2 separate regions of the Homo sapiens genome follow, and region 2 is linked to region 1. A link means that fine-mapping ties the variant in region 1 to the expression of a gene that starts in the linked region. Tissue or cell type: fibroblasts. Region 1 holds a variant in brackets; the other region holds the start of a gene. All regions are shown on one strand. Distances are between the middles of the regions.

Evidence for each region. PIP is the estimated chance that this variant, and not a neighbour inherited with it, causes the effect.
Region 2: STAT4 starts here. The variant in region 1 is fine-mapped to the expression of STAT4 in fibroblasts (GTEx, PIP above 0.99).

What each region holds. Positions count from the first base shown.
Region 1 is chr2:191,037,200-191,045,307 of GRCh38, forward strand. STAT4 (signal transducer and activator of transcription 4) reads right to left here. Exons shown (of 24, transcript NM_003151.4): 15 at 3,866-3,949; 16 at 2,000-2,098. Among named protein-coding and RNA genes, the nearest start is that of STAT4-AS1, 20 kb to the left of the region's middle. The variant A/G (reference allele first, on the strand shown) is at 4,656.
Region 2 is chr2:191,146,314-191,154,421 of GRCh38, forward strand. It overlaps STAT4 (signal transducer and activator of transcription 4), which reads right to left and starts at 4,681. Exons shown (of 24, transcript NM_003151.4): 1 at 4,634-4,681; 2 at 1,763-1,891; 3 at 300-444. The coding sequence starts at 1,890. RefSeq lists a silencer at 4,321-4,370 and enhancers at 4,841-4,890, 5,021-5,100.

The sequences.
Region 1 (8,108 bases):
CCAAAGTGCTAGAAATGGTAAAGTCCCAGGCTAGGGAAGGTGACCCTACAATATTATGATTAACCTCAAATACCTATTTTATGGACACCATAGTAGTCTTTTCTTATTTGCTCTACATAATTAAAAAAAACAAAAACAGAGAAATGATCTCGCTCTGTTGCTCAAGCTGGACTTGAACTCCTGGGTTCAAGAAACTCTCTTGCCTCAACCTCTCAAGTAGCTGAAACTACAGGTGTGTACCATTGTGCCCAGCTAAATAAGAGAATATTCTGTGTGATCGACTACAAACGAGATTGTGCCAGAAACCAGGTCAACAATAGTGAAACATAAGACTCTGTCCCAGATTACTGGAAAACAGATGTGTGAAACTCAAGAAACATGTTTCAAGAAGAGGAAAGGAAGAATTCAGAAATCCAGTGCGGTGCCTGGAAAAGGCCGTTGTGAACAAGAGCTAAATTGGGCTTAGATTAATCAAGAAAAAGAACCAATTCAAGAGATTTCAGAAGGTGGGAATGAAAGAGGACACAGCATCCAACAAGGAATGGGCAATAGGAAGAGGAGGAATGAAGAGAAAGAATTTCTAGGGAGATGGTTTTTTGTGAACCTGAGAATGGTGCCTGGAAAAGTGACCAGAAAGCACAGAATACAATCAAGGCCTAAGGGCTTAGGTTTCAAAGCAGGATAGAATTAAGAGGAGAAACCAGGATTAGTTGTTTAGACTGGTTCTGTAACTAGGCTGTGAATCTGTGTTTTAGGAGCTGTATATTATCTATAGCTCTAGATTCTCATCCTAGAGCCATGTAAATTTGGGATGATGGGTGTGACGACTTTGGTGCCTTTCTTACAGAAGGAGGTTGCTGAAGAAAGCTAAGTGCAGCACTTCTCTGTGAGGCTGGAGGACAGAGAAGTATCCCATCACTCCTTCTACTCCCTGGAGTTGGAAGAAAGCTGAACATGTGTAGATCTAATGGGGATCAGCATTTAATCTCAGGGGCATTGGCTGTCCTTTGCCTTAAAGATCAGGCGATTTCTCTGGTAAGTTCTGCTCTTTTTGGGGCACCCTGCACAGTCTTCCTCTCTGCAATTAATTTGTCTCAGATGCTAGGGCACTTGAGGAGGAGAAGGAGTAGGCCTGAGTCATTTTCCTCGTTGTTTCCTTATTAGAACATTGAATCAAAGAGAAAGAACACTAACAGCTGATTCATTATGATCTTGTTCTTACTACTGGGATCTAAAGTAGAAGAATTCTTCCCTTTGGAGGGAACATTTGCTCTGAATTAAGAAGAAATGTTGTTATTTACATCTGACCTATTTTCTCTAGACCTCAGTGGTTTCCAGGACAACACACTGAGGTTTTGAAGGAGGGGTGCAAGGGGAAGTGCTGACTCATCTTTTTTGCCACTCCCTTCCCTGGTTGTCTTATAAGAAGAACACCTATTCACTGCTTGCTTTGTGACTTGAGGCCAATTTTGGGTCAGTGTCACAACGACCAGATAGCATTAAAACCCAGCTTGAGCCTAGGATGGATGAAATCTGTAATCCACTTGAAAATGTGCACTGTCAGAATACGATTAGGCAAGATTGATGAATATTCTACTTACTTACTTGGAAACCAATTCTCTACCTTTGTAGAAGAGACTGCATGGACAAGGTGGGACCAGAGCAGCTGGGGAGGTAAGAAGTTTCCTTCAGCTTAGTTAACAGAGTCATAGGATGGCCCTGGAACTCTCTGGTACGCACATAGTTGGCAGCTGACCAGACCCTCAGAAATAACAAATCCCTGTTACTTTTGCTAGCAGAATTCTCTCAGGGTCCACATATATCAGAACATACTACTTTAAATATGACATGAGAGGAAACATACAACTAGAAATACTACAAATAAAGCAACTCTCACCCCACACCCCACTGGCACACACATGTTTTGATGCAGATGTGTTTGTTGGCAATAAAACAAATCGAATAGCATTAAAGAAGTTGAGGTAGAAATAGAGTCTACCTGGGAATCGTTGGTTGACACGTTGTACCAAATGATGGATGCCCAAGCATTAGGTAACTGACTGACATTGGAAATCATCACCACAGGCAATGAGCTGGTCTGGTTTGGGGGGAAAAAAGCATAGTTATTACAGGTAGTCCCACCTTACATTGATCTTATGCTTGACCCTCGCCTCTAAAGGGCCAATCTCAAGCCAGCCCCACACCTCCAGTCCTGATGTCCATGGTGCCCTGGTCACTGAAATGACTTGTGAAGGCCATGGAACTTTCTGAGCATGCATAAGTAAGGGCACAGAGAGGAAAGAGCAGGAATCCTTTCAGAGTGCTCAGTCAGGCAGCTTCCCAGTATCTCCCCTGACATTGCGGACACATTTATACTTTTTAAATGTCACCCACTGTCTCAAGTGCAATATATTAGAGAGTCTATTGAATTAGCAACAATCTTCTCTATAAGTTAAATAAAAGAATCTATTTTAAGTTTATCTCTGGAATGAATCAGTACCTTCAAATTATGACCTAACACCTAATTAACATAAACACTGGAAGTGGGAGGTTTCTATTGTAAAAATAGGAGAGATAAGCTATGGGAGATAGAGCCGTCTGTGCTATTGTTACAGAACTAACTCAATTTAATACTCTTGGTTCTGTGGTTTTCTACTTTATGAGATAAACAGGCTTTTACAAATTAGCTTGGGAAACTAATCAACTTACAGTACTCTTTTCCCAATAACAGACATCAGATTCCTGTAGATGGTAAAATACCCATTTGAGGAACTTTAACAACTCATAAAAACAGAGGTTTAGGGAAAGGAGGTGAGGAAGGAATCTATGAAAGCTTTTGCAAACATATTACCATCATTAAGATAAAAGAGCAAAGGCAGAATTCTAAAACAATATACTCCACAATAGGATCATATTCAGGGTGTGTGAGATTGTGTTTGTTCATTCATGCACTGATTCATTCACGGTGTCCTGCCTTCAAGGAGCGCATAGTCAATTCATGTTCAATTTAATTCCAAAAGTTTCTTTATTCTTTCTTTGAGTTTAGTGGTGATTGTTTTATGAGGATCAAAGCAACATACTGTAATGTTCCTATTATTTGTCTTTGCTCATTATGTTAGATAAATCTTCCTTCTGTGAGTTTTTATGTAAAGTTAAATTTTTGAAAATATATTACTACAAAAAAAAGAAAATATATCACTACATGACATAAGCTCAAGGATACTTATTTCTCTTTAGGCTTTCCACTGAGTGTTCATGACTCAGGAAATCCCAGAAAACAAACAAACAAGAACTTGAGCAACAAATTATTTAATGTATATAAAGTTCGTAATACTCTTGAGCTTTTTATTTTCTTTTATTTTTTATTTATTTATTTTTTTGAGACTAGGTCTCACTCTGTCACCCAGGCTGGAGTGCAGTGGCATGATCAGCACTCACCGCAGCCTCCACCTCCTGGGCTCAATCAATCCTCCTGCCTCTGCCTCCTGAGTAGCTGGGACTACAGGCACATGCCACCACACCCAGCAAATTTTTGTATTTTTAGTAGAGGTGGGGGTTTTCACCCTGTTGCCCAGGCTGGTCTCAAATTCCAGGGCTCAAGCAATCCACCCACCTTGGCCTACCAAAGTGCTGGGATTACAGATGTGAGCCACTGCACCCAGCTACCCACAAGCTTTTATCATATATATTTAACCAAAATATTATGTTAACTAGTGAATATTTGACATATTGACTTTCTAAATTAAAACAAAATAATGAATATGGAATGTACTAAAACCTAGAAAAGACTGAGCTTACATCTATTAATGCTGACCAATTCTTGCAAATGCCATTAGTAAATAGTGTATGTTCTTGAAACACCTACCTCCAAATCTATGGTCAGGCCATAGAGGCAGATCTGTGTTTCAAACGTTATGGAATGAAGTTCTTCAGTCACCATGTGACAGCCCTAAGGAAGAGAGAAATAAATTGTTACCTCACAAATGCATACTCACTATCTAATAGAAGACTTGTTTCTATATAAATTAATATATTTATTAATAAATTAATAAAGTAAATACCCCCAAACAGTCTCTATTATTGAACATTCCCTCTTATTGTTTTAAAAGTTATATACAGTTTGGAAAATCTTCATTTCCCCAAACAGAATGATTTTAAGTCTTCAAAACAAGATAATTTCTGGCTTTAAAAATTCTGGCATAGTTTTTTTTCAGTTGAAATTTAGACAAGTTTTTCCTTATTTTAATGTTTGAAAATTGGTACTTTTGATTTACCAAATGTTAATAAAAGCAATCCATATATGCATAGGTATACAGATACAAGTCTTAGTGTCACAATGAATCTGTTCAAAAAGAATGCAAGACCTCCTTCTGGTTTAACATGGTAGGTGGAGTACATGTATTTTCCTCTGTTCCCTCCAGACACTCCAATAAGGTAATAGCTGGAGTTTTATTCACTTTCCAATAAAGTAAAACTGTAATCTAGATCCCTGAGTGAAAGGTAGGGGAGTGTAGAGTAAGGGTAGAAGAAAGAACCCAGAGGTTGAAAGCACTGAGCTCCCTGAGGCTGCAGAAAAGAAGACTGCAGACCAGGATGTGCTGTAAGAGCCCCAGCTCAGGCAGTGAGGTCTCCACCCCTCCAGACCTGGGCACAGG[A/G]GGGAGGTTTGCTCTTTGGAGTGGATGAGTCAGAGGAATTACAGAGGCTCTCTACATTCTGGGAACAAGGTCAAGCTGCAGTCAGGGGTTAGGTGCTGTGTGTGCTAAAGAGTGGAAGGTCCTGTTAAAGTTTACGGTTAAGCCCATGCTTGCCCCTTCTCCGACATCTAGAGCCAGGCTTAAAAGCTCCTGGAAAGGTATCTGGGAAGTTTGCCAGACCAAGGGAGGTAACATACAGCTACTGCCTTCTATACCCAACACCGTCCTCCAACACCCCTTTGAAACAGCCAGATTCTAATAATCACCCTAAGTCTACAGTTCTCAACACGCACATAGAATTTTCAGGCTGTTTTTTAATGCCCTTCTCTTAATTATTAACAGCAAGCTAATGATCATCAGGCATTTGACAAAGACTTTCACATGAAATAAGAATGCAAAAACAAAAAACTCAGAGGAAAAGCAAAAAGTAAAAATAAATAAATAAATAAAAGAATAAAAAAACAGTGAAAAAAGTCTACTGTATTCAGCTCAGTTTATTCAATAAATATATGGCATGTTGAAGGCGCAGATCAACCGTTTGTAATGGGAAGATAGTGCTTAGATACTGATTTGAACAAACCAACTGTCAAATGGCCTTTTTTGAGACAATAGAGGAATTTGAACAAAAAATAGGATTTTATTAAGGAAGCATTTTAAAAAAATTATTATTTTGGTTTTTGTGATAAGTGTATTGTGGTTAGGTTTAAACATTTCTTATATTCTAAAGATACCTGCTGAAGTATCTATATTATACTGTACTATCTAGAATTTGAGAACTCCAGGAAAAATGTATGTATAGGTGAAAAATAGGTTAAATAAGATAGGCAAAATATTAATCATTGTTGAAGTTAGGTGATGCTTAAATTCATTCATTGTATTCTCTCTTTTTTTTTTTTCTTTTTTGAGATGCAGTTTTGCTCTTGTTGCCCAGGCTGGAGTGCAGTGGCACAATCTCGGCTCACTGCAACCTCCGCCTCCTGGGTCCAAGTGATTCTCCTGCCTCAGCCTTCTGAGTAGCTGGGATTACAGGCATGCGCCACCATGCCTGGCTAATTTTGTATTTTTAGTAGAGATGGGGTTTCTCCATGTTGGTCAAGCTGGGCTCGAACTCCCGACCTCAGGTGATCCACCCGCCTTGGCCTCCCAAAGTGCTGGGATTACAGGCGTGAGCCACTGCGCCCGGCCGTATTCTCTATTCCTGTATATATTTGAAAATGCACATTAAAACACTTTTTAAAAACTATATAAAACAAAGATTACATCAGTGTAACAAGAATAGAATATTATTGTAAGAAACATTCTGAAAATAATAAAGAACCACTTAAAATATAATAAGAGAAATAGACAAGTCAGTAAAAAGATTGGACATAAAGTAGAGGAAATTTCCCAGAATGTAAAACAAACAAAAAAATCCCACAAAGACGTCAAAAATAGAATAGAAAAGATAGCAAATAAAGAATTAATATATGAACTGCAGCAACAAACTAACACAAGTTCTGGAAAGAGAACAGAGAAAATGGAGTAGAGGAAATGTCAAAGACATAAACAAATTGTAATTCTTATATACCACTTATGCAATTGTTACAATCACTTTGGAGAACAATTCCTCAGTATCTAGAAAAGTAGAAGATGCACATTACCTATACGTAACAATTCTTGTTGAATCATCTGATTCTGACTCATCTGCTACCAAATATATATAGGTCAAAGATTTTTTGCACTCATTAAAAAAAAAAGACATGTAGAAGAATGTTAATTGAAGAATGTTTATAGTAGAACTGCTTAGAATGCTAAAATGATTCATCAATAGGAGAATAGCTAGCTATACTGTGTATATTTATAGAGCAAAAAACTATACAGCGTTGGAATAAATGATCCACAGCAACATGAATCAACGTAGGAATGAGTCTCAGAAAATATTTTGTTGAGCAAGAAAAGCAAGTTGTGATAAAATATATACATAAGGATGCCATTTATGTAAAATCTAAATTTATAATACAGAATAATATAAAGTATATAGAAACATATTCATTCATAGAAAAAGTATAAAGGCATTCTTGAAAACAATAAACATCAAAATTCAAGGCAATGGTTATTGGGAGGTGGGTGGGTACAGAGAGGAAAAGGATTAAAGGCGGGGGTGGGGTGGGGGTACCAGGTGTCTTCAACTATATTTGCAAAGTTTGAATTTTTAAGCTATTTGATGGGTGTTCATGCTATTATTCTTTATGTTTTTACATGTTTTCAATAGTCTATAAAAATGAATAATACAAGAAAACTTCTCAAAGTAAAGGACATGAATGTTCAAATTGGAAGGACCCATGAATGGCTGGCACAATAAATAAATGAAGGACCACACCAAAACTCATTGCTGTAAAATTGCAGGAAACCAGTTTAAAAGTTTCAGGAGTGCAGGAATAAAAAGGCATTTATAAATGATTAAGAATCAGAATACAAGATAAGTAGAAGACAATGGAAAAGTGCTTTAAGAATTTGGGGGAATAATGATTTCTAACCCAGAATTCTATATCCAGCCAAACTATCAGTCAACTATGGATGGGAAACACTTTTTCAGATATGCAAGTCCTCTGGAAATTTGGCTCCCTAGTACTTTTTCTCTGGAAACTACTGAAAGAGTCTCTCCAATAAAAAGGAGACAGTAACCTAAGAAAGAGGAAGACATGAACCCAGCCAGGAGAAGGGGGTGGGACTCCCTAGGATAACGGTGAAAGGGAGTTTCAAAAACAAACGAACAAAACAATAAACAAAAAACAACTACCCCACAATTGCACAACAGGATCAGAGGGCAAGTAGCCAGGACTGGAGCCAGAAGATAGAGTGCTCCCAGAGCGATGTTGCCAAGAAAAAAGGAAGAAAGGAACTCATAGATGGACATGTTTGACCAAATTGTAAGGAGTTTTCTAGTTCTGATGGAAAGTTTGGGGCTTAATTAGTGACAAGTATGTAAATTAATCAAATAAAAAACTCAGGGAAACTATTAAATCCAGAGAAAACTAAAAGTAATACAAGAATGGAAATACAATCATAGTATGCTATATGGCTTAGCTGTTAACAATTTTTATATAATCATAGTAAGGTAAACATCGAATACATTGAGTAAACGAAAATATGTTATATAATGATATTGTGAAGATGGGGCAGAATTTCTACATATGGAGAGCTGTAATAAGAAAGACATAGCTTAACCTTTTATAGAAAATCAGAAGTTAGACATATAAAATTTAAAAAAATCAAGAGATATCAGTATTAGCATGATATTTACAGCTCAAAAAATAATCACCTCTGGGGAGGAGTTTGACATAGAAAGAAGTAGGAAATTGCAGTTAGTCCCTGATGAAATTTTATAGTAGGTAAAAAAGGACCAGCAGTATTGCCATCGCCTAAAAGTTTGTA
Region 2 (8,108 bases), 110 kb after region 1:
AACTGTGGTCTGGTCAGTGTTGTTGAACTGAATCATAGCTAGTAAACAAGATACATGCAAGTCCCACATGCAACACACTTGTAATGTATTTTATACACTATACTTTTAGTGTATTTTATTTTCAACATTTCATGAAAAATGTTAGGTAATAAAATTGAGCACAAAATTTGTAAGTGGTAAGACAACTCAATTTTCCCCTAAATTTCATTTGAAAATAATATAAGGGTACATATTTAATTTTTAACTAAATTTAAGACTCATATATCCAAATATTTTGGAAAAGTAGAATGCATTCTTACCTGAAGGACCTTCCTAATTCTTTTTAGATTGTGTATCAAGAGTAGGTTTTTCTCTTTGGAAACACGACCTAACTGTTCATCCAGTTGTATTAACAAGTTTTGAAGAAGAATCGTTGCCATGGTTTCATTGTTAGAAGCTGCCTCCCTAAAAAAAAAAAGGATTATTACACAACAGAAAACAACTTTGTAAAATGTCTACTTTTTTACCATACTAACTTTAAAACAATAAACCTATTACATGGTGATAAGCATTTAAAAGTTTTAAAAAATTAAATTGTTAACATGAAGAGATGCTCAACATCACTAATCATTAGGGAATTTCAAGTGAAAATCAGAGTAAGATACCACTTCATACCCATTAGGGTGGCTATTATAAAAAGGAAAAGAAAAAACAGAAAATGAGTGTTGGTGAGGATACAGAGAAATTGTGCAATGCTGGTGGGAAGGTAAAATGGTCAATCACTGTGGAAAACTATATGACAGTTACCCAAAATATTAAACATAAAATTGCTATATGACCCAGCAATTCCACATCTGGATATATACCCAAAAGAATTAAAAGCAGGGACTCAAACAGATATTTGCATACCAATGTTCCTAGCAGGGTTATTAGCAATAGCCAAAATGTTTGAACAACCCAAATGTCCATTGACAGATACATTTATAAAACAAAATGTGATATATACAAACAATGGAATATTATTGAGCTTCAAAAAGGAAGAAAATTCTGATATGATACCTGTTAAACATGAATGAATTTTGAAAACATTACACTAAGCAAAATAAGTCAGTTACAAAAGGAAAAATATTGTGTGATTCCAATTATCTAAAGTACCTAGAGTAGTCAAATTCACAGAGACAGAAAATAGAATGGTGATTGCCAGGGGTTGGGGGTGGAGGACTAGGGAGTTACTGTTTAAAGAGTACAGAGTTTCAGTTTGGAAAGATGAAAAAGTTCTGCAGATGGATGGTGGTGATGGTTGCATAATAATGTGAATATATGTAATGCCACTGAATAGTACACCAAAAACAATGGTAAATTTTATGTTATGTGTATTTTACCACAATAAAAAAGATGGCTGAAAAAAATTAAATGGTATAAGGTGAATAGAGCTTTGAAGAGTATAAATCTTACTGAGAAAAAAATATTGATTTACATTGAGTCTGTGATAGAGAACTGACAATCAATTGATTTGCTTCTTTTTTTAATACATGAAAAATTATTTGGGTTTTTGTTTACAGAGAAAAGAAGCACTGGAACCATTAACTTTTCATTTACAATGAATGGAACCAGAAAGGACAATTATTCCCCTTCTTTGGGAAGGCTTTCAAATCCTTGAGAAAGTTCTTTACCTGAAAAGAATGCATCTACTGAGTAAAAAGTGGACCATAAAATAAATTCACATGGATAGAGCATCAGACATTTGTGCATCAACTTCTAGGGAAAATATGTTTGATCCTACCAGTCTTGATTTTCAATCCATTGGGCCAACAGATGCCGAATTTCCATGGGAAAGTTGTCATCATAGAATTGATCCACCTGCTCCAAAAACTTGATTTCTAACTGTTGGACTTGATTCCACTGAGACATGCTATAAAAGAAGGTGTAGAATTAGAGTTTTAAAATATTGTTCATAGCCCTAGTACATATTTTCTTCTTTCCTTAGAATTAGTCAATGTTATGACTGAATTCCAATATATCCAAGGATACAAAAATTTCACTAAGGTTTTTTTTCATAATTCAACCCTAATGAAGGGAGCAGCCTTCTTTCTGTGCCCCTAAACTACAGCCTTCCTTGCTCTAAAATGAACTCCTGTTCTACCTGCTCCAAAAAGTTTTCACTCCCACTCTGCCAAACACCCCACATCCTGCCCACAGCTGTCTATGTGAATTTCTATTATCAACAAGCTCTTTCCCTATCTCTTGTCCCCTCAACATTTAGACTTGGAGCAACTTGAAGGCAAACGTATTTGACATTTACTATACCTCCTAAAACCCTCTAAGACTTTATATGTGAGGAACAACCCCCCAAGAAGCTTCTTTTATATGAAATTGCCAAATTTCTTTTTTCTTTATTTCAGATTTGTCTGGCTTCTAGAGTCAGCTTTATGTTCTTGACTTCTAGTCCAATTTTGTCTTAGCTTCATGAAGAATTTTATGTATGCATTTTCGTAGGCTCCAGTTTTTTAAATTAAAAATATTTCTGAACCAGTGAATGTGTTTCATTTCTCTCTGTGAGGATCCATTATAGATGGGCAAAGCTCTTAAAGGATGTAGTCTTTTTGTCTCTGAGAAACATCTGATAGTGGTTAAACCCTCAAGTTACTTAAGGAGTAAGAAACCACACTTGATACCTATTTGGCAGCCTGTCATAAAAGAAAAGTACGCATTTCCCCCTTGTAACCCCACTCTGGCCAATTTAGAAGCTGTAGACATATTTCCTAACTCAGGAAAATTAGTATGACGCTGCCTCCTTGAAATTACAGCATTTTATGTTTTCCAAAGTCAAATTTTTGGTTGTTTTCTCAGCAATTCTAAGTCAAGTAAAAACACCAAACCCCCTTTTACATGATTAATCACCATAACATTTCAACATATCTCATAGATAGGCTAAGGTTTCCTTTTGCCTATAGAACACCAGGGTAATTTCATATATTTCATATACATATTCTTTGGGTTTTAAGTAGAATCATTTTGAGCACCTTTTCCCTGAGCTCCTGGTAAATGACTTAAAATTTATAAAAAAACGTGTTGCCAATGTTTTGCTAAAGAGAAAGCAAGTGGGAAAAGAAGTAATGTTTTATTTGCATATCATTTTATATTTATGAAAACCTTTACACTTTACAATTCTAGGCATATTGTAAATGCTCAATCAATGCTTGTTAAATGAAGAATGAGTGGCACTCCTGACATTGCTATGAATATGGTAGGTGGATATAAGTAGTATGTCAACTTTAAAAAGGAAAAACTTGAAGATCAAATAGGCGAAATGACGCCTGCCTAATGTGTGAGGCTTCTAAGGGACAACCTGAGGTTTCCTGAGTCTGAACCATTTGTTTTTCCAGATATCGGATGTATATATATTCCATCGGATGTGTATATATTCCACACAAAATTGGAACATTTGTTCTCATGCTACTATCAACATTGTCCTATCTATCAATTTATTTTAGTTAATGACAACAGAGAACATGAGTTGAAAATAGCATTACAGTTTTTCATCATACTATTGTTAAACCCCCGCTATGATTTGGATGAAAAATCTATTTTCTAACTAAAACTTACAGGTAGATGGGAGGAATAAGTTCTAGTGCTGTAACACTAGGATGAATATGGTTAACAATAACTTAGTGTATATTTTCAAAAAGCTAAGAGGATTTTGAATGTTCACAACACAAAGTAATGATAAATGTTTGAGGTGATGGATATGCTGAATATCCTTTGATCATAACACATTGTTCATATTTATTGAAATATCACTGTATATTCCATAAATATTTACAATTGTGTGTCAAATGAAAATAAAAGGAAAATTAAAAAAAATAAAAATAAACACCGAAAAAAATCACTACTAAGATCTGAGTCTTTCGGAGAGCTGAATTCAAAGCTGAAAAAAGGAAGAAGAAGGAATACATAGTCCTAGGACATTTTCTATTGCAGCCTCTGGGAACGCCTTTAGACATCCTTCAGCAGGTTTCTTTGCTTTCACTCTCTAGGGGCTACTTCTTTCTCATGAAAACTGTGACGTTGCTTCTGAAAACTCAGTGCCTGTCTGTCCTTTTTGCGTGCATTTCCTAGAAGATCCCACTAAAGGGGCATTTTGTCCCACCGTCTGTGAGCTGGTGGTGCCGCTTTGGCTCTGTGGCCTGTAGCTTGCAAAAGGAGATGACCTGCCCTAAAATGTCACTCGCGCCCATCAAAGCCACAGTCACCGGCTGCCGTAGCTGCAAGCTTTTTTCTGAAATCCAGGTACGCTAATCTAAAGTCAGACATCACAGCTCTAGAGAAGCTGGCTAAGAAAGTGAAGAGGGGCTCACTTTCAGCCTCCGCGAGGACACACCTCCGCAGCCGCCGCAGCTCCCCTGGCCCCCGCAGGGAGATTCGCCCGGGCACCGTGGCGCGGGCCTGCGGAGCGGTTTCCGCGGAGAACCCGTGCCAGGGCGCATCTGTGGGTCGTGGAGTCGGGCGCTTCCTTCTATAATAAGCCTCCTCAGGAAGGTTAAAATGAAGCAATTGTCAAAACGCCAAGGGAAAGCAAAGCTTCAGAGTATCCTGCATAATAAGCATGTCCTCCTTACAAGAGGCAGCCAGAAGGTGTGGTCTGGCCACTTACCTAGCGCTCTCTCAGCACAGGTCCCAGGCAGTGCTCAAGTCCAAAGTCAGAAGCGCCCCTCACAGTCCCTAGGAGAAAGCCGCTGACGCCATCATCAGTAGGGGATTTGCATTTCTCCTCCCACTTGAGGCTTTCCTGTGCGTCAGTGTTCGAGTCTCTGGGACTTTACTTGGGTCAGTTCCCACCCACTCTATTCTAGAAATGCTAACACGCAGAAACTGCCAGGCTGGAGCCCCTTCACCGGGCGTCCTCTTCCCTCTTATCCCTCCCAGCGGCTCTCGCAACTGCAGGTGGCTCAGCAGTGCCAGGAAAAAGGGGAGGGGCGGGGCATACATTTTCTTCAGTGGTTTCCTTAGACAATCTGAGATCCTCTGCAGAGTTACTTACCTGGAGCCCAGTTCTTCAGCTTCCTCTCTCCCTAGTATAAGGCTCCACTCAGCCTGGTGAACCACCCCTGGGATGGAAGGGATGGGTAGCCAGGATCAAAACACCAAACTCATAGACCTTACTGGGCTCCAATTCCAGCGGGGTCCGCTCACTCCGACGAGGGTGACCTGACCCAGAGGGTTGGGCCAAGTCCTGGGTAGGCCACCAGTGCTTGCCCTTCCTGACCTAGCCTCCTCCTACTCTCCTTGAGTAGCCTTGCCCCTGGTTGCTACGGTGCGTTCTTCTCCCTTTGTGACATCAGCCTGTTCTAGAATCACAGAGTTGGAGGAAGTCTTGGTCCCATCTAATGCTAAATCCTCTTTCATATCTGAAGAGACCCAGTGAGGTGACCAAGAGGACTCAATAAGTTAGCCACGGAGCCCGATAATAGCCCAGGTGTTTCCCTTCCCACTTCAGTGGTCTTTTCATTTCATCTCCTTGTAGTTAGCTCTTAACCCCTTGATTCACAGTAGGGGTTCAATAAAATAAAGAGAAGTCCAGGCGTGTGGCTCACACCTGTAATCCTAGCACTTTGGGAGGCTGAAGTGGAAGGACTCCTTGAGCCCAGGAGTTTGAGACCAGCCCAGGCAACACAGTAAAATCCCACCGTATATTAAAAAATCAATAAAAATGTTTAAGAAAGTAAAAATAGTAAAACAAAGACAAAAATAAAGACAGACAGACAGACTGAAAGAAAGGTAGAAAGTGTCACTCAATTTGGTTATACACATGCTTAGAGCAATATACCAAGGTGAAAGGCCTGCCTCCCTCTTCCCTGACGGGTTTCACACAGGTACACCCTCTGGATTCTTCTCTCCCAGGTGACATTATCATGTGCTTAAACTTACCACCCACCCCCAAATAGGTCAATCAATCCAAAGTCACACTTTCCATATCACTGTAAATTTCCTGGTTAGGTAGGCCTGGTCCCCACTGCTTGTTGAGCAGGCAGTTTCCAGGAGCTTATGCTGCTCTGACCCTACATAAGAAAGTGCCAATTTCAGGCTATTCCATAAGCTACTAAGCAAAGTCTGATTTTCTTCTGGAGAAGCTGTCACTGCCTATAGGAAAAAAATCCAAATTCTTGGCAGTTTAAGTTCTGTACAGTTTGGTCCCAACCTATCCAGGAAACTTTTCTCCCCTATAAGAGCCCATGATGTGACCCAAGCAGTCACCTCAGCTGCCCAGATTAACCTCATATTTCACTACCGAGGCTTTCTTCAACTGGATATTCCTCCCTGAGCCTACCTACTTAGTGAAATCCTATAGTTCTCAGTGAAGACTTCCCGATGACCTGAACCCACAGCAATGTTTCCCTGCTCCAAATTCTTCATACTTCCTGTCCAAACCAGCGCTCTCCAAGAGAAATAAAATGTAAGCCACATATGTAATTGTAAATTTTCTCATAGCCATATTAAAAAGGAAAAAAGCACAGGTGAAATTAATTTTAATATTGTAAATAACCCAATATATACAAGAATCTTAACATTTTGGCATATAATCAATATAAAAAATTATCAATAAGATACTTTGCATTCCTTATTTCATACTCAATCTCTGAAGTCTGGTGTATATTTAGCACTTACAGGGCATGTCAGTTAGGACTAGCCACATTCCAAGCCACATATGGCTAGTGGCTGCCGTGTTGGACAGTGCACATCTAGACCACTTATTTAGCACTTTTCACTTCCTGCCTCATAGTGTTAGTCACACTGGTTTTACATGTCCTTATCATTATCATATTCAATTGTTGAGTGCCTGCTGTACAAAACAGAGTTTGTTCTCCTCCTCCTTTTCAGGGCCTTACCTTGCGGCTTCCACAGCAGTTTTTAAACCTTTTGTTCTCAAGATACCATTATTCCCTTAAAAATTGTTGACAAACCCAAGGAATGTTTGTGTATTACTGTTCTGGATGAAATTTTTATTTACTGTGTTAAAACTTAAATCTGAGAAAAAATTAAAATATGTATTTATTCCTTCAAAATGACAATAATAAACCCACTCCATGTTAAACATGTTTTAAGAAAAACAAATATATCTTCCAACATGAAAAACGTAATGAGAAGAGTGGCATTTTAAAAATCTCTTTAATGTCTGGTTTGAGAGAAGACAGCTGGATTCTCATATCTGTTTCTGCATTTAATCTGCTGCAAAGTATTATTTTGGTTGACATATTTGAAGAAAGTATGGACTCACACATTTATGTAGTTGGAAAAGGGGAGTATTATAATGACCTTTTCAAATAATTATTCTTCTTTGATACCACATCAAAACTCAATGAGTGGTAGTTTCTGAAGGGCTAGTTGCATTGTGAAATCTGAAACCTTATCAACATATACTTTATGTATACTTTATGTAAACATATACTTTATGTATACTGTTACATTCAAATCTTTTGTTGTATATATTTTGAATGAAACTATTACCCACAAATTATTTTGCAATGTCAGACACTGGTCATTTAAAAAACATTGGTCCACTGAAGTATGCAGATTTTCTAAATGCTGCCTACTTCATCATACAATGAATACAACATTTCATCATACAGTGTTCAGAAATTCATGTCAGGTAATATCAATGTTGATCTCATCATGTAAGTATTTTAAATACTGGGAAGCAGTCAAGCTCAAATTCTAATTTTTGCTTGAAAGCTCAGTTTTATTATTGGCAGCAGATACTACCAGTTGTTTTCCTTAAAGTGACAGGCTCGTCTTGGCAACTCAAACAATCACGCAAGTGCTTTTCCTCGAGATGACCATCATCCTTTAATATGTGCCTTTTCCATTTCATCACAAAGAATATTAAAAAGACGTGTACTTAAGGTCTGAGATTTAATAAAATTAATAATTTTTACTGCTTCATCAAAAACATTCTTAAGTCAAACTGGCATTTTATTGTAAGTGCATGGTGGTGAAATATACAACTGCTAGTATAATTTGGCACCACTTCCTTGCTTTGTGCTAAGGCCCCAACAGTTTCACCCACCTTTGCTTTGGTACCATTGGTGCAAATGTCAGCAGGGTGAAAAGACAAAACTGTATTAGTATTA